3 separate regions of the Homo sapiens genome follow, and regions 2 and 3 are each linked to region 1. Evidence: fine-mapped expression QTL. A gene starts in region 1. Each other region holds a variant in brackets. All regions are shown on one strand. Distances are from middle to middle.

Region 1 (8,266 bases):
AACAGGCAAAAAAAGTAGAAAGAAACCAAAAATCCATCAACTGATAGATAAAATGTGGTATATCCATATTATTAGAATTATAGTATCTATAGAATATTTTCAGCCATAAAGGAATAATGCACTGCTACATGCTGGTACACCATGGATGAACCCTTAAAACATGATGCTAGGTGAAAGAAGCCAGACACAAAAGGCCACACGTATGACTCCATGAAATGCCCACAATAGGCCAATCGACAGGAAAAGAAAGTAGATAGTGGTTGGCAAAGGAAGGAATAAGGAGTGACTGCTAATAGATAAGAAGTTTCTTTCTGGGGTGAGAAGAATGTTCTAGAGTTAGTGGTGACATTTTTACAAATTTCTGGCTATACTAAAAAAAAAAACCCACCGGGCCAGGCGCGGTGGCTCAGGCCTGTAATCCCAGCACTTTGGGAGGCTGAGGTAGGCAGATCACGAGGTCAGGAGATCGAGACCATCCTGGCTAACACAGTGAAACCCCGTCTCTACTAAAAATACAAAAACTTAGCCAGGTGTGGTGGTGGACGCCTGTAGTCCCAGCTACTCGGGAGGCTGAGGCAGGAAAATGGCATGAACTCAGGAGGCGGAGCTTGCAGTGAGCCAAGATTGCGCCACTGCACTCTAGCCTGGGCGACAGAGTGAGACTCCATCTCAAAAAAACAAAAAAAACACTGAATTTTGGCTCATACCTATAATCCCAGCACTGTGTGAGACCTAGGCAGGTGGATCACATGAGGCCAGGATTTCCTGTCCAGCCTGGCCAACATGGCAAAACCCCATCTCTATTAAAAATAAAAAAAATTAGCCAGACATGGTGGCACACGCCTGTAATCCTAGCTCCTCGGGAGGCTGGGGCACAAGAATATTGAACCCGGGAGGCAGAGGTTGCAGTAAGCCAAGATTGCGCCACCGCACTCCAGCCTGGGCTAAAGAACCAGTTTATCTCGAAAAATAAAAATAAATAAATAAAAAGGTTGGGGGCAGTGGCTCACACCTGTAATCCCAACACTTTCAGCGGCTGAATCACTTGAGCTCAGGAGTTCAAGACCGGCCTGGCCAACATGGCGAAAACCCATCTCTACAAAAAATACAAAAATTAGCTGCACGTGATGGTGCACACCTATGGTCCCCGCTACTTGGGAGGCTGAAGTGGAAGGATTGCTTGAGCTTGGGAGGCGGAGGTTGCAGTGAGCCAAGATCATGCCACTGCACGCCAGCCTGGGTGACAGAGGCAGACCCTGTCTCTAAACAACAAAAAACCCCACTGAATTGTATACGTTAAAAGGACTTTACATCACGTGAATTACATCTCAATGAGAAATAAAATACTGAATGAACGAATACGTGGACATAACTGCTTCCCAACTAGACTGTGTGGGCGGTGGGGAGCATGTTGCAGACATCTTGGATTCCACAGCCCCTGACACAAGGTAGGTAGTGGTAAATAAAGATGGTCAATGAATACCAGAACACGGGAGCTCAGTAAACAGCAGAGCACACTGAAAAATAAAAAGCACTCCAGACATCGAAGGTTTTATGCCCACACTTGTGCAAACATCCAACGACAGCTCCCACAGCACGCAGCAGGGCAGCGCAACGAAAACTGCCTTCAACTAGCAGCGACAAAACACCTTGATTCCAGTCCCAGCTCTGCTTCTAACTCACTGTGTACCCCTGAGTAAGTCCCTTCCCCTGCTGGACTATCTCAGGGGATTTGCGAGACCAACTGGACTTCATTCCTTTTCTGTCAACTTTTGTATTTCTTTAGTACTTCCTAGACAGAGGGAAGTGGCTTGTATTTTAAGTGCTAGAGGCAGCTTCCCAATTCCCCTAAGATAATGACAAGTGGAAAATGCTTATTTAATGTCAGCCTAGTAGCTGATCTTAGGCTTGCCCTGCACTTTTTTTTTCTTTTTAAATTTTGGAGGTCAGTCCCGCTGGCTGGCAAGGCAACATCTGTAAAAAAGCACTAGGCTGGCCGGGTGTGGTGGCTCACGCCTGTAATCCCAGCACTTTGGGAGGCCAAGGTGGGCGGATCATAAGGTCAGGAGATCGAGACCATCCTGGCTAACATGGTGAAACCCCGTCTCTACTAAAAATTCAACAAATTAGCCGGGCGTGGTGGTGGGCGCCTGTAGTCCCAGCTATTCGGGAGGCTGAGACAGGAGAATGGCGTGAACCCGGGAGGCAGAGCTTGCAGTGAGCCGAGATCAGGCCACTGCACTCCAGCCTGGGCGACACAGCGAGATTCCATCTTTAAAAAAAAAGCACTAGACTGGTGGTCCGAGTCCATATTCTGTCAGTATTCAGGTGTGAGGGTTTCAGGCAAATCGCATCCTTTAACCCCCTCAGCTGTAACACAGGGACACCAGCATAAACTTAATTTGACAAATGTTTCTTGAGGCCTAACATATGCACAACTTTGGTCTACGTATCAAGGACTGTAAAGGTGACTGGACCCCTTTCCTCTGCCCTAACCTTCTAAGGAAGGCAAACAGGTGCATCTTGTACTAGAAGCAGGAATGACTCAGACCAAATGTACTATATGACGGGCCATAAAGGAATAAAGTATTGATGCATGCTCATAAACCATGGATGAACCTTGAAAACACTATGCTTAGGGGTGGGGGGAAGAAAGATTATTTGGGACCAGGGCATAATGAAGAGATGGTTGGAATTATTAAGGAAACTGTGAGGGTAGGGGCGGGGCGGGATCTCGTTTATCTGTGCCCTAAGAGCCCCCACAAAAGTCCGGCACACAGCCCGTATCCTAGGGCTTCCGACGCTGGGTAATGGGTAACAAGAGACAGAAGACATGTTTCTCCAATGTAAGTCACGCAGGGCGGTGGTGGATGACAGAGCTGGCCCACAGTCCCGCCAGAGCCAGAGAGCCTAGAAGGATAGTGCATGCAGCTCGTCCCGCCCACCGCACGGGTTTGATGGATGTGGGGTGGGGATGGGGGGGGAAATAGATGAATAATGAACCAACGAACGACGCGCAGGTGGCTACTGGCTCGCGCCAGCGGAGAGAAAGGCGTGAGCAGCCTCGCTGATACCTGCGAAGCCGCTATAGTGGGACCCAGGCTCGTAGTGCCTCCGGCCGGAGGACACATCGTAGACACGGCCGAGCAACGCCAAGTACAGGCCCGGGTCCCCTGGGCCGCCGCGGTAGCGAGACAGCTCCTCCGGTATGAAAAGGCGAAAGCCAGCGCGGGGACCCCACCAGCCCATAAGCCGTGCTGCCATTACCGCTGCTGCGGCTACAGCCAGGCCCAACAAAAGCCCACGGCCTCCGCACCTCAACATCTATATAGGCCCACCCGCTCCGCACTTCCGAGGTTGCCGCCTCTATCTACAGCTAAGATGGCCGAGACGCCGAGCGTGACGTCATCGGCGCGCGCGCTCTCGCTCTCTCTCTCGCGCGCTAGTGCTCGCGCTCCCTCCCTTAGTCTCTCTCGTTTTATCTGTATTCCTGGCACTGGCGAAAAGCTCGCTGTCTGCGACTTTTTCCAGGTACTTTTTTTTTTTTTTTCTGAGACAGAGTTTTAGCTCTTGTTGTCCAGGCTGGAGTGCACTGGCGGAATCTCGGCTCACTGCAACCTCCGCCTCCCGGGTTCAAGCGATTCTCCTGCCTCAGCCTCCCAAGTAGCTGGGATTACAGGCACGCGCCCCCACGTCCGGCTAATATTTTGTATTTAGTAGAGACAGGGTTTCACCACGTTGGTCAGGCTGGTCTCGAACTCCTGACCTCAGGTGATCCACCCGTCTCGGCCTCCCAAAGTGCTGGGATTACAGGCGTGAGCCACCGCGCCTGGCCCTTCTCGTACTTCTTGGCTTGCAGGTTGTCAGCCCCAACAAAGATGGCGGCAGCGGAGGCTACGGAATGACGTAGATACTGAGACAGACTCGTCCTCTGGGAAATCAAGGTTGCACCCTTTGAGGCGGCGCTCCCCGCCTAGCTGTCGTGAGTTGGTAGAGGCCGCCTATCTACGTGACGGCGCCTTTGCGACAGCGGTCGTCGCTTGACGGCCAGGAAGCCGGAAGCCGCAGGGGCCGCCGTCGTCTCCTCCGCGTCCCCGCCCGCCAGCTGCTGTCGGAGGTTGACAGGTCGAGGCGGGGAGGCGGCGGCGGCGGCTGCAGAGCCAGGCGCCCAAGACGGAGACCCCATGGGGAACGCTCCGAGTCACAGCAGTGAAGACGAAGCGGCAGCTGCCGGTGGCGAGGGCTGGGGCCCACACCAGGACTGGGCCGCGGTCTCGGGCACGACCCCCGGCCCGGGCGTCGCGGCTCCAGCGCTACCACCCGCCGCGGCGCTGCTGGAGCCGGCCAGGCTGCGAGAGGCTGCTGCAGCGTTGCTGCCCACACCCCCCTGCGAGTCGCTGGTGTCGAGGCATCGCGGCGCGTTGTTTCGCTGGCTGGAAGAGCGGCTGGGCCGCGGCGAAGAGTCTGTCACTCTGGAGCAGTTCCGGGAGCTGCTGGAGGCTCGCGGCGCCGGCTGCTCTAGCGAGCAGTTCGAGGAGGTCAGGGCCGGCAGGCGACTGCGGGGATGGGGCAGGGCGGTCGCCCCCAGGGGACTGAAGGAAGAGGTGGGCATTTGCTTTGGAGAGGCCAGGCGGGGACCCATATGAGGTGTTTCCAGCTTTTCACCAGGCGTTTGCTTCGTTTCTCTTTAACCTATGTTAGAGGTCTGGAAAGTCTGCATCAGGCCGTCCTTGCTCTGAAGAGCTGGACAAGCCCATATGTCTCTCTCTGTATGTTGTAATGCAGACCTTTGTGCAGTTGATTGACGCTACTCTGGAGATCTTCTATCAGATTCTCGAACAGTTTGGAGAGAAAAGAGATGTAAGGATAGGAGGAGTGGCGCTGAGAACCATTTTTTGTATTGTCCTGTCCAGGTTTTTACACAGCACCTTCCCAATTCAGTGTGGGCGCCGAATAAGTGTGGAAAGACAGTAGTAACATGCTGGAAAGGCTCACATTCTAAAACCTATCCTCCTCATGCAAAAACTAGCTTTTCTAAAATACATACTGGTTTGTAGATCCTTAAAGAACCATATATTAGACTCATTTAAACCTTCATAGGATCCGAAACTGATAGGCAAATACCAGGTTTCCTGTGAATACTTGTAATTATGCAGTTCTTCATATAATCACCAAGATCATGTCTGCTAAGTCATTAAGAGAGCAAATTGATTTGGCAACAAAATATTTTCCTTGGAAGGCATTTTGGGAGTTTATTTACTGGGCGCTTCACTTCGAGTTAAGAAGACTGATCCAGGGTTACCCAGTGAATCATTAGTAAAACAGACTATCAACTAGATCTCTTGCTTTTTTTTTTTTTCTTTCTTTCAACTTTTATTTTAAATTCAGGCGTACATGTGCAGGATTTGGATTTGCAGATGTATTACATAGGTAAACGTGTGCCATGGTGGTTTACTCCACACAGCATCCCATCACCCAGGTATTAAGCCCAGCATCCATTAGGTATTCTTCCTGATGCTCTCTCTCCCTCCACCCGCACCCTATTTTTTGTTTTTAATGTCTCACTACCTCCTTCCTGGGATCCTATTTCTTTTAACACCACGGTATGACCAAAAAGGTACTTATTTTGTGAAAATGAGTTAGCCAGTCATGTAGAATCTTCAGTGGCCACGAAGGGTGTGTACATAAAGCAGTAAACCAGCGGGTACTTGCAGTGCCTTTAAAAGGTTCTGTTCACCTTAAAATCAGAGGCTTTTAAAATATTTTAAGAATGTCTTCCTGTACATGGCCAGAATTCAGATAATGTAGTTTGTGTGTTTCTTATGAAAAAAGTACCTTTAAGGCATCCCAACCCTTAAAAATAATAGTCATGGCTGGGCGCAGTGGCTCACGCCTGTAATCCCAGCACTTTGGGAGGCTGAGGCGGGAGGATCATCTGAGGTCAGGAATTCAAGACCAGCCTGGCCAACGTGGTGAAACCCCACCTCTACTAAAAATACAAAAATTAGCTGGGCATGGTGGCGGGTGCCTGTAATCCCAGCTACTTGGGAGGCTGAGGTGGGACAACCGCTTGAACCCAGGAGGCGGAGGTTGCAGTGAGCTGAGATCACGCCACTGCATTCCAGCCTGGGCCTCAGAGCGATACTCTGTCTCAAAAAAAAAAAAAAAAGTCATATTAGTTAGTGAAAGATCTCCTTTTTTTTTCCCCCCAGGAATACACATAGTACCTTCTTTCTAGTATCTACGCGTATTATGAGAATATGAAGTAGTAGTGGGAAGAACCATGCAGAACTGTTGAAGGAGATGGCACTTTGCAGATTTGAGCAAAGGCAAATGGAGAGAAACACCGTTTACATTCTGAGAGTTTCTGACAGAAATAGAACTTTATGTAGAGTTCATAGGAGTCCCTTAATAGAAGGTCAAGAAATACTTGAGGTGTGGTCCAGAAATCACTCAGGGGTTGTGGCATTATTGTTCACTGAGCAAATGTTTATTGGGCGTATATCGAGTGCCACTCACTTGGATGACAGTGGACAAAGCAGATACTTGCTCTTAAAGAGTATGTAGTTGTGGTGGAAGAGACAGGTATTAACCCATTAATTATAAGATATGGTGAGTGTTAACCGAGGGGGAAGGTATAAGGAATAAATAGCAAGTGTATTTAACCTCACTTGGGGCTCAAGCAAGACTTACCTGAGAAGGTAACATTTCAGCCCACAGGTGAATGGTGAAAGCAGATAGTGTTACAGGAGGTAGTAACAGCGTTTCAGGCAGAGGAAATTGTATCCACAAAAGTTCAAAGTCCAGAGAATCTGGAAGAAGTCTGGTGTGGTGTATTAGGGATACACAAAACTTTTTCAAGGGACAGAAAACCTAATGCATCAGTGGTTTAAACATAAAAAGAAGCTGCTTCCTTATGAAAATGTCCAGGTAGGCAGTCCAAGATTGATGTGGCAGTGTTGTCATCATCAGGGACCTGGCTTCGTCCATCTTGTGCTGTCATCCTCCACGGACATCTTCCACTTAGTAATTCTGTTGACTCCTGCTGTCATTTTCCACATTCCAACAAGCAAGAAAGGGAAAAGGGAAGGAGAAGGAAGAAGCCATGCCCACTCTCTTACGGGCATAGCTTACATCCCACAGGCCAAAATTCAGTCACATGGCCGCAGTTACCTGCAGGACAGGCTGGGAAAGATTCTTTTTCCGTGGCCATATATTCAGCTAAAACTCAGGGCTTAATTATTGAGGAAGGGGAGAGAAAACATTGAGTTATATTTGGCAGTCTTTGATTCACATAGCTAGGTCATACAGTTCTGTGAGTGAGGCTTAGCCAAGGTTTAAAAACCTGATTGTGATAATCTCACAGTGGCCACCGTCTCTCATGATAATCTTGTGATGGCTGCTCTGTCTGTAAGAACTAGTAAGTTAGGACTAGCCAAAGAAGATAAGATTTAGCCATGCATTTGATTCTGTGCTTTAAGAATGTCTATCCTTAGACTTGAATAAGTATATACTTTTGTGCATACTTACACAGTTAATTCTGCGTTGTTAATCTACGTCTAAGCTTTTGAGAATATACTGCTGTATTTTACTGCAAGATGAAGGGCTTGTGAAGTAATGTCTTTATAGTAGCAACTAAAATGACAAGTTGTTTCCGTCATTCGTTTTTATAAGAGCTAACATGGTAAAACAGATAGCCACGGGTGCGCATGGTTTATTATAATGCTGAGAGTTTCCAAGTGTTACATGTTTCTTCTTTGGCTTCCCAACTTACGCTGCCATTGGTGTCCACGCAGCTGTCTTGCTTTCACATTCCTGTGACCTCAGTTATTTGAGGAGGTGTTATAAAGAAGTTCTTGGAGTTGGACCATGGACCAAAGTCTGAAACATTATCATTTTATAGTACAACACACCTTTTCTCATGGTAGGTGTGGTCCAGGGAGAAGGTGCGCATGGTTTATTATAATGCTGAGAGTTTCCAAGTGTTACATGTTTCTTCTTTGGCTTCCTAACTTAGCTGCCATTGGTGTCCACGCAGCTGTCTTGCTTTCACATTCCTGTGACCTCAGTTACTTGAGGAGGTGTTATAAAGAAGTTCTTGGAGTTGGACCATGGACCAAAGTCTGAAACATTATCATTTTATAGTACAACACACCTTTTCTCATGGTAGGTGTGGTCCAGGGAGAAGGGACTCTCTCAGTTTGCTCACAAGGAGCAATATTTAATTAACTGCCATGTAGAGGGGAAATAGAATTAAAATTAAGTT
Region 2 (8,266 bases), 91 kb after region 1:
TGTTTGAGGCCTGGTATGAAAAAATAGCCCAGGAAGATCCAGAGAAGCAGAGGAAAGTAAGACCTCTCAACTAGAGTACTCTGAAGTGATTTGCTAGGAGTTTGGAGAGGAGAGTTTGCCTGGGGGGGTTCTGGCAGGCTCTTACCTGAGAGGGCTGCAGGTGGCATTCAATACCCTAGTGAAGGGGTCCCCAACCGCTGAATGCGACCGAATGCAGGCTGTGAGCAGCAGGCAAGCGAGGGAGGCTGAGCTCCGCCTCCTGTCCGATCAGCTGCGGCATTGGATTTTCACGGGAGCATGAGCCCACAATAAACCGCGCATGCGAGGCATCTAGTTTGTGCGCTGCTTATGAGAGTCTAATGACTGATGATCTGAGGTGGAACAGTTTCATCCCGAAACCATCCCCCACCCAGTCCTGTGCAGAAATTGTCTTCTACGAAATTGGTCCCTGGTGCCAAAAAGGGGGACTGCTGCCCTAGCGTCTGGTGTTTAACCTTTAACCTGAGGGGCTATAAATCCTGATTTGACTACACTCAGAGTGGCTCCCTGCCGTAGAACTAGACTCATTGAAAAATTGGCTCTTAAAGCTGATGTACAATATGAGGTGCCAGTTTACTAATTTACAGTGAGAAATAGAATTGCTGGAGGGCCTGGGCTCTAGTGTCCTTGGAGCAGCACATTCTCTTCCTGTAGACAAGCAGTGTGGGAAGCCACGTTTCCATCAGAAGGCTGCCTGGTGAGCATGGGAGCAGCCGTTATGTATAGAGAGGGCATCAGAGCTGCATGATTCAGATGTGCAAAGGCTCAGGCTCAGATAGCCCACTGTGTCCATCTCCACGTCAGGTGTTAAATCCATCGCTACCACATGTGCCAAGCATCTGCTGCCTCAGATTCATTCATTTTCTAAGTATCGAGTGCCTACTATGTGCCAACCACTTTGTTCACGTAGCACCACTGTGGTGCTTGGATGGAGCTTGCCAAGTGGGCCTTTGTGGCTTTTTCTCTCGCATATGTTAATACCTTTTGGGAGTTCTGTAGTTGTAAGGTGACTTGGCATATTTGCTCTGGTCTACTGTATGACTTACTGATTTAGATCCCTCATTTCCAGGCCCTAAAGAGAAACAATACTGTAGTCCAAGTACTTTCCAGTAAAGCAATTTGTTTGCTCATTAGACAGTACCCAGACTATCCCTGCAGAAAGTTTGCCTGTAAGTGCCAGGGACAGTACTCCTTTTGCAGTGTTTCCTGTATCTGTGAACACTACCATCGTCCAACCACGTACCCAAGCCAGAAACTTTCTTCCCTTTTACTGATCCCTATATCCAGTCGGTCACCAAGGTTTCCCACTTCTGCCTCAACACCTCAAATCTACGCACCTTTCACCATCCCGCCTACTACTCAGTCCCAGCCCTTATAATGTGCCATGGGGTTCCTTTAACGCTTTGGTCATGGTCAGTCTCACTGAGTCCAGGCTTGCCCCTTTGATCCATTCTTTCCTCAACTTCCAGAAGAGCACTCCAGTCCGATCACATTACTCTTCTCTCTAAAAACAATCTGTAACTCCTAAGACTGATATGCAAGGCCCTTTGTGGTTTAACCTTTCTCTCTTCATCTGACTCTTCCCCTCTGTACTGTATTCGACGCACTGAGTCATGCCAGTTTCATAAACCTGTCTCTCATCCCCTTTTTGCTGTCTGTCAAATTTGCTATTTCTATCTGACATGCCCACCTCCCTTACCCCGACCCGTCTAGTACCTGTTTGTCCTTTGGGTCTCACCTGAGGAATTATCTCCTTTGGAAAACCTTCTTTGACCTTCTGAATACCCATTGGTAGCCATAGTCCTCTGTCCTCTAAGCCTCCTGCAATTTCCTGTGAAAGCACTGGTCATACTAAATGGTCATCACCTCCTTGATGGAATTCCCAACTAGACACTGAGGAGCTTATTCATTATCAAATCCTAGCACTTAGTACAATGCCTGGAACATCTTCAGTACCTAGTGAATGGAGGAATTGATTAGTGAATTGTGGCCACCTTAGAAAATCTATCAGTTAATTGTATATGTTTGGCCTTACAGATGCACATGTTCATTGCTCGCTACTGTGACCTGTTAAATGTGGACATCTCTTGTGATGGGTGTGATGAGATTGCCCCCTGGCATCGATACCGCTGTCTGCAGTGCAGCGACATGGATCTCTGCAAAACTTGCTTCCTAGGTAAATTTCATGAACTGGGTACGCCGTATCCAAAGGCAATATCACTTCTGATTTCTATGATCTTGTCATTTTTAAAAACTCTCAGTGTACTAAATCAAAGTACTGCCCAGTGGTATTTTCTCTGACTTCTTGGCGAACATGAGCCTTATCTCCTCAACTAAATGAAAAGCTCCACAGCCCTAATATCTGTCGTGCTTCCTTCTTCTATCATGCTGGGTGTAGCCACATAATAAACACTCGGGACCAGTGTATGTATGTTCAGTGGAGTTTTCAGGAAATAGTGTTTGCTTCTGAATCATGCAGTGTTTACATGTAGCAAAATACACACGCACACATACACAAGCAAGCTTCAAAAATCCTCGTACACTTGACTTCTAGGTGCTGAGGTAAAACAGATGCACAGTAGTGCACACCTGACTGGCCTTTTTGTGCATGGCCCAGTGGTAAGAGACAGCCCTTGCCCTGGAACCATCTACAGTCCAGCAGGAGGACTGGACAGATCCACAGAATGTCTATTCCAGTACAAGAATGTGTGTGCTGAGTTATAAAGGAGGGTACAGATTGTTTCTGGAAAAGTTTAGAAGCAGTAGCAGCATTGCTGCAGGGAAGGCTCGTGAAGGAGGTGGAATGAGAATTGGTTTTTGAAGGAAGTTAGAACTGGATGATGTGTAGGAAACGTTGGGGATGGTATCACCATCAAGGGCATAGCAAACCCTGGGACAGAGGAGTGTCTGTAGTGACTTTAGATGGCCATGCTGAAATGTTTGCCCAACTAAGTGATGGATTAAGACAGGTGGGGCCCCCGACTGTGGGACCCCAAGATACTAGGCTAAGGAGTTTGAATAGTCTAGAGACAGCAGGGAAGGTTTTTGAAGTAGGTATTATTAATAACATGATGAGAGCTATGCTAGAGGAAGGTGGTTCTGTCAGTGCTAAGAGTCTCCTTTAGGAAATCAGTCACAGTATTCACACAGGCATGGGAGCCTGGACTGGGTTCATGACAGTGAGAATGAACAGAAGTGGGCCAGGCGCGAGGAGCATTCTTTAGGGTCCATGACAGAGCTTAGAGTGAGAAGGGCCCAAGGGCCTTAGAGTGAGAAGGAGACCAGTGCAGCCCATCTCTTTCCTGACTGTTATTCTCTCTCACTCACTGGGTCTGGGTCTGGTTTTTTCTCCCCCGCCGCCCTCCCGAGACAAAGTCTCACTCTGTCCCTCAGGCTAGAGTACAGTGGCACCATCTCAGCTCACTGCAACTTCTGCCTCCTGGGTTAAAGTGATTTTCCTGCTTCAGCCTCCCAAGTAGCTGGGAGTACAGGTGCCTGCCACCACACGTGGCTAATTTTTGTATTTTCAATAGAGACGAGGTTTCACCATATTGCCCAGGCTGGTCTTGAACTCTTAGACTCAAGCGATCTGCCTGCCTCGGCCTCCCAAAGTGCTGGGATTACAGGCATGAGCCACAACGCCTGGCCCTTTTTTAATTTTTTAATTTTTATTTTTTTATTTTGGAAGTCTGTTTTCATCTGTGATTCTGGAGTGAAAAAGGAAGAGCAAATATCCTGATCAGTCCTCAGTGCTTGTTAACAGGAATACATCAACAGAAGCTTACTCTTTGTTAGTGGAGGGGTCATAGGAGACAGCTCACAAATTAACATGTGGACTTGTTTCCACCAAACAGCAGTCCTGATAATGCATTTGATCTCACTGTACCATTGCCGAGAAATTCTGTGCCAAGAGTCTCATTCATA[T/C]GCCTTGAGCCACCCAGGCAGAGCACCCTGTCTCCAGAGAACGCCTGTGGGCCCTGTATCCCTGAGCAGTCACTTGGGAACGGCCCTGGTGCTGGGGTTGGTTTGGGTTTGGAAACTAGCCCATCTAGGAGCCCTCTACCTCATCCCCTCACACTGCTGTGTTTCTCCTCAGGTGGGGTGAAGCCTGAGGGCCACGGAGACGACCATGAAATGGTCAACATGGAGTTTACCTGTGACCACTGCCAGGGTTTGATCATAGGCCGGAGGATGAACTGCAATGTTTGCGATGACTTTGATCTTTGCTACGGATGCTATGCAGCGAAGAAATACTCCTACGGGTATGTCTCAAGTGACCGTCGCCACCAAGCCTTTTATTTACACGTTCCTTCACTTGAAAAGGGACTTCTTTCTTTTTTTAAAAAAGTTTTTTTTATTTAAAAATTTAAACATAACCAAAAGTAAAGAGACTAACACAGTGAACCTTCATGTACCCATTACCCAGGTTCAGCAGTTAGGAAGATTTTGTAATGTGTGCTTAGTTTATTGCTTTTTTTTTTTTTTCCTGTGTTAAAGTATTTTAAAGCCAATTCCAGGACCAGGCTCGGTGGCTCACGCCTGTAATCCCAGCACTTTCAGAGGCCGAGGCGAACTCCTGTGGTCAGGAGTTCGAGATCAGCCTGCCCAACATGGAGAAACCCCGTCTCTACTAAAAATACAAAAATTAGCTGGGTGTGGTGGTGGGTGCCTGTAATCCCAGCTACTTGGGAGGCTAAGGCATGAGAATCGCTTGAACCTGGGAGGCGGAGGTTGCAGTGAGCTGAGACTGCGCCACTGCACTCCAGCCTGAGCGACAGAACGAGACTCCATCTCAAATAAATAAATACATAAATAAAGCAAATTCCAGGCCTTAAATTATTTCCTTCCTACATACTTTATACCCCCCTTTAAAAATTATGGGTTTTATTCACATTACCAAAATGCTATTACCACACCTTCCAAAATCACAATAAGCAATTCTTCCTTAGTCCAATTTCTGCAGACAACCTCTGGGGATTGTGAAACCCTGAAAGGCATGTTCTGTGTTTGTGTTTCTTCATTTTTCTGGAGAGAGGGCCCACACCTTTCTTTACATTTTCAGTAAGCGCATCCTAGAGGTGACTAATGCCCAGTTGCGACCACATGCTCTCCTAAGGCCCTGTGCTCCTGTTTGGAGCCACAAAAGCTTTTGGAGGGTTGTAAGCTTTAAATGTGTCTTGCCTTTGCAGCCATTTGCCTACCCACAGCATCACGGCCCACCCAATGGTAACCATTCGGATCAGTGACCGGCAGAGGCTCATCCAGCCATATATCCATAACTACTCCTGGCTGCTCTTTGCTGCCCTGGCTCTCTATAGCGCCCACCTGGCCAGTGCAGAGGATGTGGATGGGGAGAAGCTGGACCCCCAGACGCGCAGCAGTGCCACCACCCTGCGGAGCCAGTGCATGCAGCTCGTCGGGGACTGTCTGATGAAGGCTCATCAGGGAAAAGGTGACTTCCCAATGCACAGAAACCAAAACCAGCCCTCAGTTGCTGGTGAAAAAAAGCCTTGGCAAATGTAAAATACTAAGCTTAGTTTACAGGTGGCAACATCCACTTTTCCACAAAAGGGGCTTACCCTGGTGTGGAACTTAATTTTTAAGTTCCCCGATGGATTTTAGAGAAATGTTGGCATTGAAGTTCAACATTTAATTTCTCTGAAACTAATATTAATACCTCAAACTAATTTTAAATAATAATTAAAACTCTTTATATCTGTGGATGCAGTCTAGTATTTGAATCTACCAAACTTTGCTGAAAGAATCCAGACTTCTTAACCTGGAGTGTAAATCTGCTTCCACACAAGTGTATTCTAGATGAGAGCTGTTTACGAGTAAAATAGTTTAGCAATATATCGACATGAATCTGACTCGACTAAGGAGTGGTGGGAAGAAAGCAACTTGAAAGTTAAACCTTGGAGACATCTAAGTTCCTTCAGATAATGGCATCCCCATTCTAGTCAACATTAGGGAACCAGGCCTGTATGAGATAGCACATGGGTAACGCCAGCACCTTAGAGCAGTTCCCATACCAGTTTGCCAGTGAGAATTGAGCAGTCTGATTGTGTGGGGCTAGTATAAAAGTATAATGTTGATTATTTTCTAAATAGACAATCCTGTTATATGTTTTATCTTCTGTTGTTAATAAAGTATAAAGTGCAGGTATCCCTTGCTATTCAGCCTCTCACCATCTGAGAGGAGGAGCTGAGTAGATTTAGACAGCGAGGGATGTTCACGTTGAGTCCTCTAGGATTTGGTTTGTGCAGAACTCATTTATTTATTTCTATATAATGGCAAAGTAACTTATGGCACTTGCTGAAAAGAACTCTCATTATAAAACTTCTAACCATTCTCTGATTTGCTTCCCACATAGGCCTTAAAGCTCTAGCTTTGCTGGGTGTATTGCCAGATGGGGACTCGAGCCTAGAAGATCAGGCCCTACCAGTCACTGTGCCCACCGGAGCGTCAGAGGAGCAGCTAGAGAAGAAAGCTGTCCAGGGTGCTGAGCTGTCAGAAGCAGGCAATGTAAATGACGATTCTTTACTACACAGAATCACAGGTTGAACTCTAGAGAGAGCCATTCACTCAGTGCAGCATAGCAGAGAGGTTAAGAGCACAGACTCCTAACCCAGACTGCTGGATTCACATGCCTGCTCCATCAAACCTTGGGCATGTTGTTATCATCTCTTCAGTGTTTGTTTTATTTTCTTTTGTTTTGTTTTGAAACAGGGTCTCGCTGTCACCCAGGCTGGAGTGCAGTGGCGTGATCTTGGCTCACTGCAGCCTTGACCTCCCCAGGCTGAAGTGATCCTCCCACTTCATCCTTCTGAGTACCTGGGGCCGCAGGCATGTGCTACCATGCCTGGCTAATTTTTGTATTTTTTGTAGAGACAGGGTTTCGCCATGTTGCCCAGGGTGGTCTTGAACTCCTGGGCTCAAGTGATCTTCTGGCCTTGGCCTCCCAAAGTGATGGGATTACAGGCATGAGCCACTGCACCCAGCCTGCCTCAGTTTTCTCATCTATAAAATGGGGATGATGATATACTTGTAACATAGGCTTATTGTGAGGAGTTGTATATATGACGTACTTTGAGCTACTGTATGTCAAGTGCTTAGAAGAGTTGATAGTAAGTTCCATATCTGTGTTAACCACTCCCATTACCTGTCTCCTGGTAGTTTTTATAAGAATTAAACAAGATTGTGCACCTAAAGAAATTAATTGGCCAGGCACAGTGGCCTGTAATCCCAGCACTTTGGGAGGCCAAGGTGGGCGGATCACAAGGTCAGATGTTCAAGACCAGCCTGGCCAACAGGGTGAAACCCTGTCTCTACTAAAAATACAAAAAAAAAAAAAAAAAATTATCCAGGCTGGTGTCACGTGCCTGTAGTCCCAGCTACTCGAGAGGCAGGGGAATCGCTTGAACCCGGGAGGCGGAGGTTGCAGTGAGCCAAGATGGCGCCACTGCACTCCAAACTGGGCGACAGCAAGACTCCATCTCAAAAAAAACAACCAAAAAAAAGTCATTCCTAGCCCATGGTGTACACTGTATCGGTGTAGCTGTATTTATATTCAGTCAACAGTTAGGTGTTACTGATGCTTACTGTTTACCGGGTAGACGCAGTAATTTACACATAGTTGCATAAACAGAAAAGCTATTCTGGATCCAGGTATAACCTGTGATAGTGGCACTAAAGATTGTTTTATGGAAGAGCACGCCATTGTTTCTATGATGCTGCCTCCAGAGCTTGTGTTTCTGCTGAAAAGGCCCTTGACTGCCACAGGGGTCGCTGATGTTGCTGTCCTCTGTCTGTCAGGTTGCTAGTTCAAGGATTCCCCCATCTGGTGGTTGTAGCTCACCAAGGTCCCATTCTCATGTGGAGGAATACAAAAGCAAAACTGGCCAGCAGAAACATCAACATTTTTATTATTTCCATTCAGCCAGAGAGTCAGTAGAAGACAGGCCACATAATCATCAAGCCTGTCTCTCAACCGTCCACATTTTTTCCATGAAACGTCTTCTGTAGGCGGCACTTTAACCACCCACGGATTATGATGGGAACAAAGAGAACATTGTTAGGAGAAATGGGATTAATCAGTAGTCCTCACCTTTGAGCCTGGGAATATTTGTATCTTCTTGTGAGCCCTCAGCATCTTAAAACTAACCTTCCACCCATAAGCACTGTGCTTCCCCGTTTATCCTTTTATTTATGTCAGAATGGACTTAAT
Region 3 (8,266 bases), 49 kb after region 1:
CCTCCCAAAGTGCTGGGATTACAGGCATGAGCTACTGTGCCTGGCCCAGACTTTTTATTTAGCTCATTAATTAATGAGGGAACCAGTAAGATGTTACAAACAGTTCTAAGGAGAATTCATAAAATACATGTAGACTAACAAGAATGCTAAAATTAATTTACAAATAGATAGAATGTTGGTCAGTATCCATAAGGAATAATCAGCAACATTTCCACAGAACACAGTGTTTAGTTCTGTGGACAAGAATCATGTGCATCACTACCAGTGTTCTACAACTTACAGAATTGTAAAATAGTTTAGAGACCATAAAAGGCAGAGACGACCGAAAGGGTATGTTGGCTAGGACACCCAGTGATTCTTTTTTTTTTTTTTTTTTTTTTTTCCCATTTCAAAGCCTTTCATAACCTTTCCTGACAAAGTGTTGTAGAAGCTAACTAATCCCTTTCTCAGCCACTAAGCCAGTAGGCTTTATCAGCCCAGGCAGCCATCAGCCATGGTTGTAGGTGTGGCTCAGGAAGATGATTGATTGTCCAGTCTTTTGTCGCTTTGGCTTAAATGTTTTATAAACATTTCTTTTCTTTTTCTTTTTCTTTTTCTTTTTTTTTTTTGAGACGGAGTTTCACTCTGTTGCCCAGGCTGGAGTGCAGTGGCACAATCTCCAAGCTCCGCCTCCCGGGTTCACGCCATTCTCCTGTCTCAGCCTCCCGAGTAGGTGGGACTACAGGCGCCCGCCACCACACCTGGATAATTTTTTGTATTTTTAGTAGAGACGGGGTTTCTCCGTGTTAGCCAGGATGGTCTCCGTCTCCTGATCTCGTGATCCACCCGCCTCGGCCTCCCAAAGTGCTGGGATTACAGACGTGAGCCACTGTGCCCGGCCTAAACATTTATTTTCTTATTGTTACCTCAGAGCAGGGCTGCCTGTGAGGTGGAGGGGATTGTGCCCTGGGAAAGTTGAACCTGGTCAGTTCTCTGCTTACCTGGGGCTTTATCATCGGGGTTGCCTCTGTCCAAAGAGGACATTTTTCTCTAATTTTCGTGAAGATATCAGACCAGTTACCCCCCATGACTCAAAGGATATGGTTTGTTTTTGTTGATCTTAGTTCTTAGGGCTATAAAAATGGGTTAGTTCCCTAACTTGAGTTTTCCCTTTTTTCAGGTTTTCTTACGGAAACTGGAAAAACCAGAGCCAGCACTATTTTTTCTACCGGAACTGAATCTGCCTTCCAAGTTACACAGATAAGAATTATGGTAATTTTCGTGCTACCTTCTTTAAGCAATGTTACTACTTTTGTTTTCAATTTTTATGGGTACATAGTAGGTATATATATTTGTGGGGTACATGAGGTGTTTTGATACAGGCATGCAATGTGAAATAATCATACAGAGGATGAGGATGAGCTATTCATCCCCTCAGGCATTTAGTCTTTGTGTTATAAACAATCCATTACACTGTTGTAGTTACTTTTCCATGTACAATTAGGTTATTATTGAATATTACCTTTTATTACATTTCAGAAGTCCACGTCATTGGTGTTTTGGTTTTTTTTTTTAAAGTCAGACCTATGGCTGACCATGTCATTGGTTATTCATTGAACATTTAATGATGATTTACTCTGTGTCAGGCCTGTAGCAGAGGGCAGGGACACAAAGATGGATAGACTGTAAAGTCTTTGAAATGGTGAGAATATAAGGATTGAGAAAGTTAAGGAACATTTCTTGGGAAACAGCTTTCTTATTTTTTGAGGGCTTAATATGTTTGAAATATTTTTCATTGGTCTCGTTTTGTTTTAACCTGTTTGAATTTAACCATGCTGGAAACAAAACGGCCACAGAACTTTTGCCCCTTTGATAGACTTCATCCTAATCTCTGTTTCCAGGTTCGACGTGGTGGCATTGGTGCCCAGTGTGGGTTGGTGTTTGCCTATAACTCATCTTCAGATAAATTTTGTGCGGAAGAACACTTCAAAAGGTTTGAAAAATATGACAAATGGAAGCTTCAGGAGCTCAGGCAATTTGTAAAAAGCAGGTAAGAAGGTAAAAAATCTTTGTAGAACAAAGATCTACAGAACAAAAATCTTTGTAGTTAATAAGAATGTATTCATGCTCATTGGTGAACTGTGCTTGCTTGTCTTTATAGAAAAGGCGCCACTAATCCATCTCAGTGGCCATAAGCCTTCATTGCTTTCTAGTAGCATATCTGAAGATGTGTATGTTAATTTGTTCATAGCATGTTACTCAGTCCCTTTTGTGGCCAGGGGCACACATCTTCACAATGGCTGGGTAATGATCTATCTATGCCTGAATTGTGGACAGCCTGCAGTCTTTAGCCATTGCCCCAACCCCCCTTCTCCCATTCCTGCTTTTAACACAAATACTTATTAAGTACCTACTGTGTGCCAGGCCTGATGCTAGGTGCTGAAGATACCGTAATGAGGAAATTGGCACAGTTCTTGCTTTATATAGCTTACTGTTTAGCTCAGAAGACAGGTAAGAAAACTTGCAGTATCAACAGTGTTATGAATGTGCTGTAGGGGAGAAAGGGCGCTGTGGGGACACAGGGCAGAGCGGCCCTCCTGATCAGAGACATCTTTCTGGAGCAAGTGTTGTTATGCTGTTTATGAAGGATGAGTTGGAGTTGATCGGCCACTGGAAGGAGAATGTCCTAAGCAGAGAGGGCAGCTTCATGGGCCCAGAGGTGAAGCATGGCACATTGAAGGAACGGGCAGGTCCCGCATTGCTGAGGGATACTCGGAGGGAGGGTGATGAGAGATGCAGCTGGAGAGCTGGGAAAGGGCAGGGCATTCAGGGCTTTGTCTCTGTTTCTGTATCCTTAAAGCATCATGTGAGGGGAAATGGCAGGGGAATGTGTTGAGGCATTTCCAGAAAAGCAGGGGGCTCAAATGCATGTTGTAGAAGCACTGGTCAGGATCATGTTGTGTGTAGTATGGACTGGAGGAGAGCAAGTCTGGAGGCAGCTGGGCTGGGAGGAGGTTGTCACTTATTGCCTAGGAAGCCAGTGGGTGACTCCTACTAGAGCAGCAGCAGCAGTGCAGAGATGTGGACCAAGAGACCACTAGGAGGGAGAAGCGACAGGACCTGGTGATTGACTGAATGTGGAGCAGGAGAGGGAAAAAAGCCTCATCGGCAGTGAATCCTGGCTTTTGGCTTGAGCAGGTGGGGAAATTGGTAGTGCCTTTCTTACTCTGGGGAAAAACAGGTTTGTGGGGAAGATGATGAGCTCAGATTTTGTTCTGTTGAATTTGAAGTTCTGAGAAACCTTTGAGGTGTTCGGTAGCCAATGGATAATCGGTAGCCAATGGATAAACAGGTCAGGAGCCAGGAAGAGAAGTTTGTGCTGAAGGTACAGATATGAGAGGCATTTAAACGATAATTTAAAATGTAGAAATAGGCCAAGTGTGGTGGCTCATGCATGTAATCCCAGCATTTTGGTAGGCCAAGATAGGTGGATTTTGAGCCCAGGGGATTGAGACCAGCCTGAGCAACATAGTGAGACCCCCATCTCTAAAAAAAAAAGAAAAACATAAAAATTAGCTGGCCATGGTATCACGCGCCTGTAGTCCCAGCTACTTGGAAGACTGAGGCGGGAGGATCCCTTGAGCCCCGGAGGTTGAGGCTGCAGTGAACT[G/A]TCTTCACGCCACTGCACTCCTGCCTGGGTGACAGAGTGAGATCCTGCCTCAAAAATAAATAAATAAAATGTAGAAGTGGAAGAGATCATTCTGCAAGAGTGTGTGAACTGGGAAGAGAAGAGAACTTAGGTCAACATGAGACACACCAGGCTTTAAGGGGCAACAAGGAAAACTCAGCCAGACAAGCAGCAGGAAAGCCAGGGCCTCATGAAGGAAAGCTGTGTCCCATGAAGCCAAGGGAAAATAATGTTTGAGGGAATGGGCGATGGTGTCAGATGTTACCCAGAAGTCAGAAGGTAAAGTCTAAAAGTGGATCTGTCGGATGTAGCCACTGGTGCCCCCTTGGATAAGGTTACCTCCCCTATTGCTACTAGTGAGTTAAAATTGAAGAAGCTAAGACAAGAAAAAAAAATACTCAAGGAGCTGAAACCCTGAACTTGCCTGCATTATTTCATGGGTAGTGGATTGCTGGTGTTAATAGAAGCCTTTCAGTACCATCCACTGCAGTACTCCTTGAGCTTTAGTGTGCATACACATCAGCCAGGGAATTTGTGAAAATGCACATTCTGATTCAGGAGCTCTGGGTGGGGTCTGAGACTGATTTCTTACAGGCTCTCGGGAGATTCTGATGCTACCTGTCTGTGGACCATACTTGAAATCGTAAGGATCTAGAATAATTCGAATAATTCGCTCTTCTTGCTGCAATTCCTTTAGCAGCATTCCTGGCAAAGGTTCGGTCAGCCTCTCTACAATACCGTTGATGGAAAACTCACCACGTATCAGGCACTTCAGTAATCAGAATTTGTTCAGTTGAAATCCACATTTGTAATGTCTCTTCAGTGGTCTTCGTTTCAGCCCTTTAATGAATTTGAACAAATGTCTTTCACTCCTAAAATCTCCCTTCCGTTACACGTGTATGCCTTTTTAAACACTGCTTTTCTTTTAAAGTAATAACTAGAGATGACACTGGGTTTTAGGCAGCTATGTCCTACTCTTGGGACAAATTAAAATGGGTCATTTCCCCTAAACCTGCTGTTAAACAAGGTCTTTTACATCTTATACAGGATGATTTTTTTTTAACCTAAATAGAGGCCTATTCACCACTCCCTTAATGATTTTAGCTCCTGATTCCAGCCTGAATGACTCTTAAATCGTGATTTTGTTGGCCTACATATTCACCAGTCCCTCTCCAGTTTGGAAATCAAAATATTAATGTGCATGCATTTTCTTTTTGCCTTTTTTTTTTTTTTGGTCATGTCCTCCTGGTCAGGCGTTCGTCAGTCAGCATGCTCCAGGGTCAGCAGTTGGTGCTGTGCCTACGTCAGAGGACTAGGATTCATCTGTCTTCCATCTTGCCTACTATGTAGTGCAGTGTAGGGAACAAGATTGCTTCTCTCTGTTCTCTGATACCCTGCCAGCTTTCTGTATCTCGAAGATTTCCTTGACAACTCCCAAAGAGTAGATTAAAAAATCTTTAAGCTTATGATATTGATGAAACTCATTGACATGGTTTTGGCTTAAGAGAATACCGTTTCCCATTAGGGTTAACTGTGTCATGAAAGGTTTATGCCAAGAAAGACTTATGTTAAGAAGGGACATTTTGCCGGGCACAGTGGCTCACACCTGTAATCCTAGCGCACTTTGGAAGGCCGAGGCGGGTGGATCACTTGAGGTCAGGACTTGAGGTCAGAAACCAGCCTGGCCAAGATGGTGAAACCCCATCTATACTAAAAATACAAAAAAATTAGCCAGGTGTGGTGGCAGGCACCTGTAATCCCAGCTGCTTGGGAAGCTGAGGCAGGTGAATCTTTTGAACCTGGGAGGTGGAGGTTGCAGTGAGCCAAGATTGTGCCACTGCATTGCAGCCTGGGCGACAGAGCAAGACTCCATCTCAAAAAAAAAAAAAAAAAGGGACATGTTTTCTCTCTGTTACAGAACCTACTCGGGATTGTCTTCTTGCCATAATTCCCTCTTTTTGGTAGTTTTACCTATATAAAATACTAATGTGTCGCCAGCTTGGTGGCTATATATCACAGACTGAATAGTGTAAAGTTTTAGGAATGTTACTTGAAAAAACTGCTCTTTTTCTCCTTCTTATTTATTTATATTATTTTTATTATTTTTTTTTTTTTTGAGGTGGAGTTTCGCTCTTGTTGCCCAGGCTGGAGTGCAGTGGCACGATCTTGGCTCACCGCAACCTCCGCCTCCTGGGTTCAAGCAATTCCCCTGCCTGAGCCTCCCGAGTAGCTGGGATTACAGGCATGCACCACCACGCCTGGCTAATTTTGTATTTTTAGTAGAGACAGAGTTTCTTAATGTTGGTCAGGCTGGTCTCGAATTCCTGACCTCAGGTGCTCTGCCTGCCTCAGCCTCCCAAAGTGCTGGGATTACAGGTGTGAGCCACCGTGCCCGGCCTTATTTTTATATTTTTTTGAGATGGAGCCTTGCTCTGTCACCCAGGCTGGAGTGCAATGGCGTGATCTCAGTTCACTGCAACCTCCACCTCTTGGGTTCAAGTGATTCCCCTGCCTCAGCCTCCTGAGTAGCTGAGATTACAGGTGTGCACCACCACGCCTGGCTAATTTTTTGTATGTTTAGTAGAGACAGGGTTCGCCATGTTTACCAGGCTGGTCTCAAACTCCTGACCTCAAGTGATCCATCCACCTCAACCTCCTAAAGTGCTTATAGGTGTGAGCCATCGTGCCCAGCACATCTTAGTTACTTAATTCCTGAAAAGGGAGTAGCATTTAAGTGTTCAGCTTTTAAAAAGAAGTGGCATACATTCTCTTAAAAAGAAGAGAAGACATCTCTTCAGCCTCAAGGCTGGAATGTTTTTCTGAAAGAACTTCTTAAGAAACAGACAAGAATACTGAGGCCTACGAAGGCTGGGGTTTTTGTTTTTTTGGACCTCCAGGATCTGAAAGCCCTCAGATGTTTACCCATCAGCTATTGCAAGTGGCCCAAACCTCAGGTTGGTCATAAACATGTTAGCCAGACCTAGGGAAAGAAAACCAAGCCTGCCTCTTTTCTGGCACTTTCCAGAAGCACATGCCAGCTGTTGCATTGGACCTTACTCCTGAGTCATCCACAATGCCCGACTTTCTGTCTCATTCTTCAGATGAGCCAATTAGAGAAGCAAACTTTCTCCTTAGTTCCCAGATTATATTTCCCAGTTCATAGAGAAGGAGACTGAGCAATGGAAAGGCAATACTACCAACTGTCTCATGTGCTCACAGGGTACCATGTACCATAGTCAGCTCTCGATTGTTCACTGACAGGCTACAGATACAAGTTACATGTCACTTAGATGATACCTTATTTGTTAGACCCTTGAGAAGTTTCAAAATAAAATGTTTTGTGAATACTCTTGTCTTTACAGGATTGGTTGCTCATCTGATGACCTTGGAGAGGATGATCCTATTGGCTGGTTTGAACTGGAAGAAGAATGGGATGAAGCAGATGTGAAGCTGCAACAGTGCAGAGTTGCCAAAGTAAGCATTAGTGCGTCGTTTGCCCACTCCCCTCCTTTTATTCTGTGTTTTTTGAGTAGTGATTGTGTATCAGCCCTGTGCCAATGCTACAACCCCAGAGGCGAATCTACCTTCAGGGAGTTCATACTCTGTGGGAGAGACAGATGTGTAAGACAGTGTGATACGAGCTGTGATAAAAGGAGAGACAGAGAGCTGTTGGCAACCAGGGGAAAAATATGTAACTCGAAAGCTTCTCAGGAAGGGTGGTGTGATGTCAAATGTTGAAGATTAAGTTGTCATCCTTAGCCAGGCTACAGTGTGTGGAGGAGGGCGTCTCAGGCTGAGAGAATAGTTGAGAACACAGCATCCTTAGCCAGGCTACAGTGTGTGGAGGAGGGCACCTCAGGCTGAGAGAATAGTGAGAACACAGCATCCTTAGCCAGGCTACAGTGTGTGGAGGAGGGCGCCTCAGGCTGAGAGAATAGTGAGAACACAGCATCCTTAGCCAGGCTGCAGTGTGTGGAGGAGGGCGTCTCAGGCTGAGAGAATAGTTGAGAACACAGCATCCTTAGCCAGGCTACAGTGTGTGGAGGAGGGCGTCTCAGGCTGACAGAATAGTTGAGAACACAGCATCCTTAGCCAGGCTGCAGTGTGTGGAGGAGGGCGTCTCAGGCTGAGAGAATAGTTGAGAACACAGCATCCTTAGCCAGGCTGCAGTGTGTGGAGGAGGGCGTCTCAGGCTGAGAGAATAGTTGAGAACACAGCATCCTTAGCCAGGCTGCAGTGTGTGGAGGAGGGCGTCTCAGGCTGAGAGAATAGTTGAGAACACAGCATCCTTAGCCAGGCTGCAGTGTGTGGAGGAGGGCGTCTCAGGCTGAGAGAATAGTTGAGAACACAGCATCCTTAGCCAGGCTGCAGTGTGTGGAGGAGGGCGTCTCAGGCTGAGAGAATAGTTGAGAACACAGCATCCTTAGCCAGGCTACAGTGTGTGGAGGAGGGCGCCTCAGGCTGAGAGAATAGTGAGAACACAGCATCCTTAGCCAGGCTACAGTGTGTGGAGGAGGGCGCCTCAGGCTGAGAGAATAGTGAGAACACAGCATCCTTAGCCATGCTACAGTGTGTGGAGGAGGGCACCTCAGGCTGAGA

Which allele goes with the higher level. Alleles are on the strand shown, and positions count from the first base shown. SD is a standard deviation of normalised expression in the study named. Not every link is listed here.
As copies of G replace A in region 3, the expression in thyroid of the gene that starts at base 4,050 in region 1 goes down (small effect, 0.25 SD a copy in GTEx).

What was found. PIP is the estimated chance that this variant, and not a neighbour inherited with it, causes the effect. A credible set is the group of variants that fine-mapping cannot tell apart.
Region 2: its variant is the best candidate, but not a certain one, in a credible set for the expression of ZZEF1 in monocytes after Pam3CSK4 (Quach 2016, PIP 0.62).
Region 3: its variant is the best candidate, but not a certain one, in a credible set for the expression of ZZEF1 in thyroid (GTEx, PIP 0.58).

The regions. Positions count from the first base shown.
Region 1 is chr17:4,138,814-4,147,079 of GRCh38, reverse strand. It overlaps ZZEF1 (zinc finger ZZ-type and EF-hand domain containing 1), which reads left to right and starts at 4,050. Exons shown (of 55, transcript NM_015113.4): 1 at 4,050-4,538. The coding sequence starts at 4,185. CYB5D2 (cytochrome b5 domain containing 2) reads right to left here and starts at 3,883. Exons shown (of 4, transcript NM_144611.4): 1 at 3,075-3,883. The coding sequence starts at 3,324. RefSeq lists enhancers at 3,035-3,614, 3,185-3,737, 3,765-4,074, 3,738-4,289 and a silencer at 4,155-4,324.
Region 2 is chr17:4,048,006-4,056,271 of GRCh38, reverse strand. ZZEF1 (zinc finger ZZ-type and EF-hand domain containing 1) reads left to right here. Exons shown (of 55, transcript NM_015113.4): 33 at 1-56; 34 at 2,077-2,215; 35 at 4,136-4,301; 36 at 5,229-5,491; 37 at 6,413-6,564. Among named protein-coding and RNA genes, the nearest start is that of LINC01975, 75 kb to the right of the region's middle. The variant T/C (reference allele first, on the strand shown) is at 3,964.
Region 3 is chr17:4,089,594-4,097,859 of GRCh38, reverse strand. ZZEF1 (zinc finger ZZ-type and EF-hand domain containing 1) reads left to right here. Exons shown (of 55, transcript NM_015113.4): 10 at 1,160-1,251; 11 at 1,881-2,029; 12 at 7,030-7,141. Among named protein-coding and RNA genes, the nearest start is that of ZZEF1, 49 kb to the left of the region's middle. The variant G/A (reference allele first, on the strand shown) is at 3,650.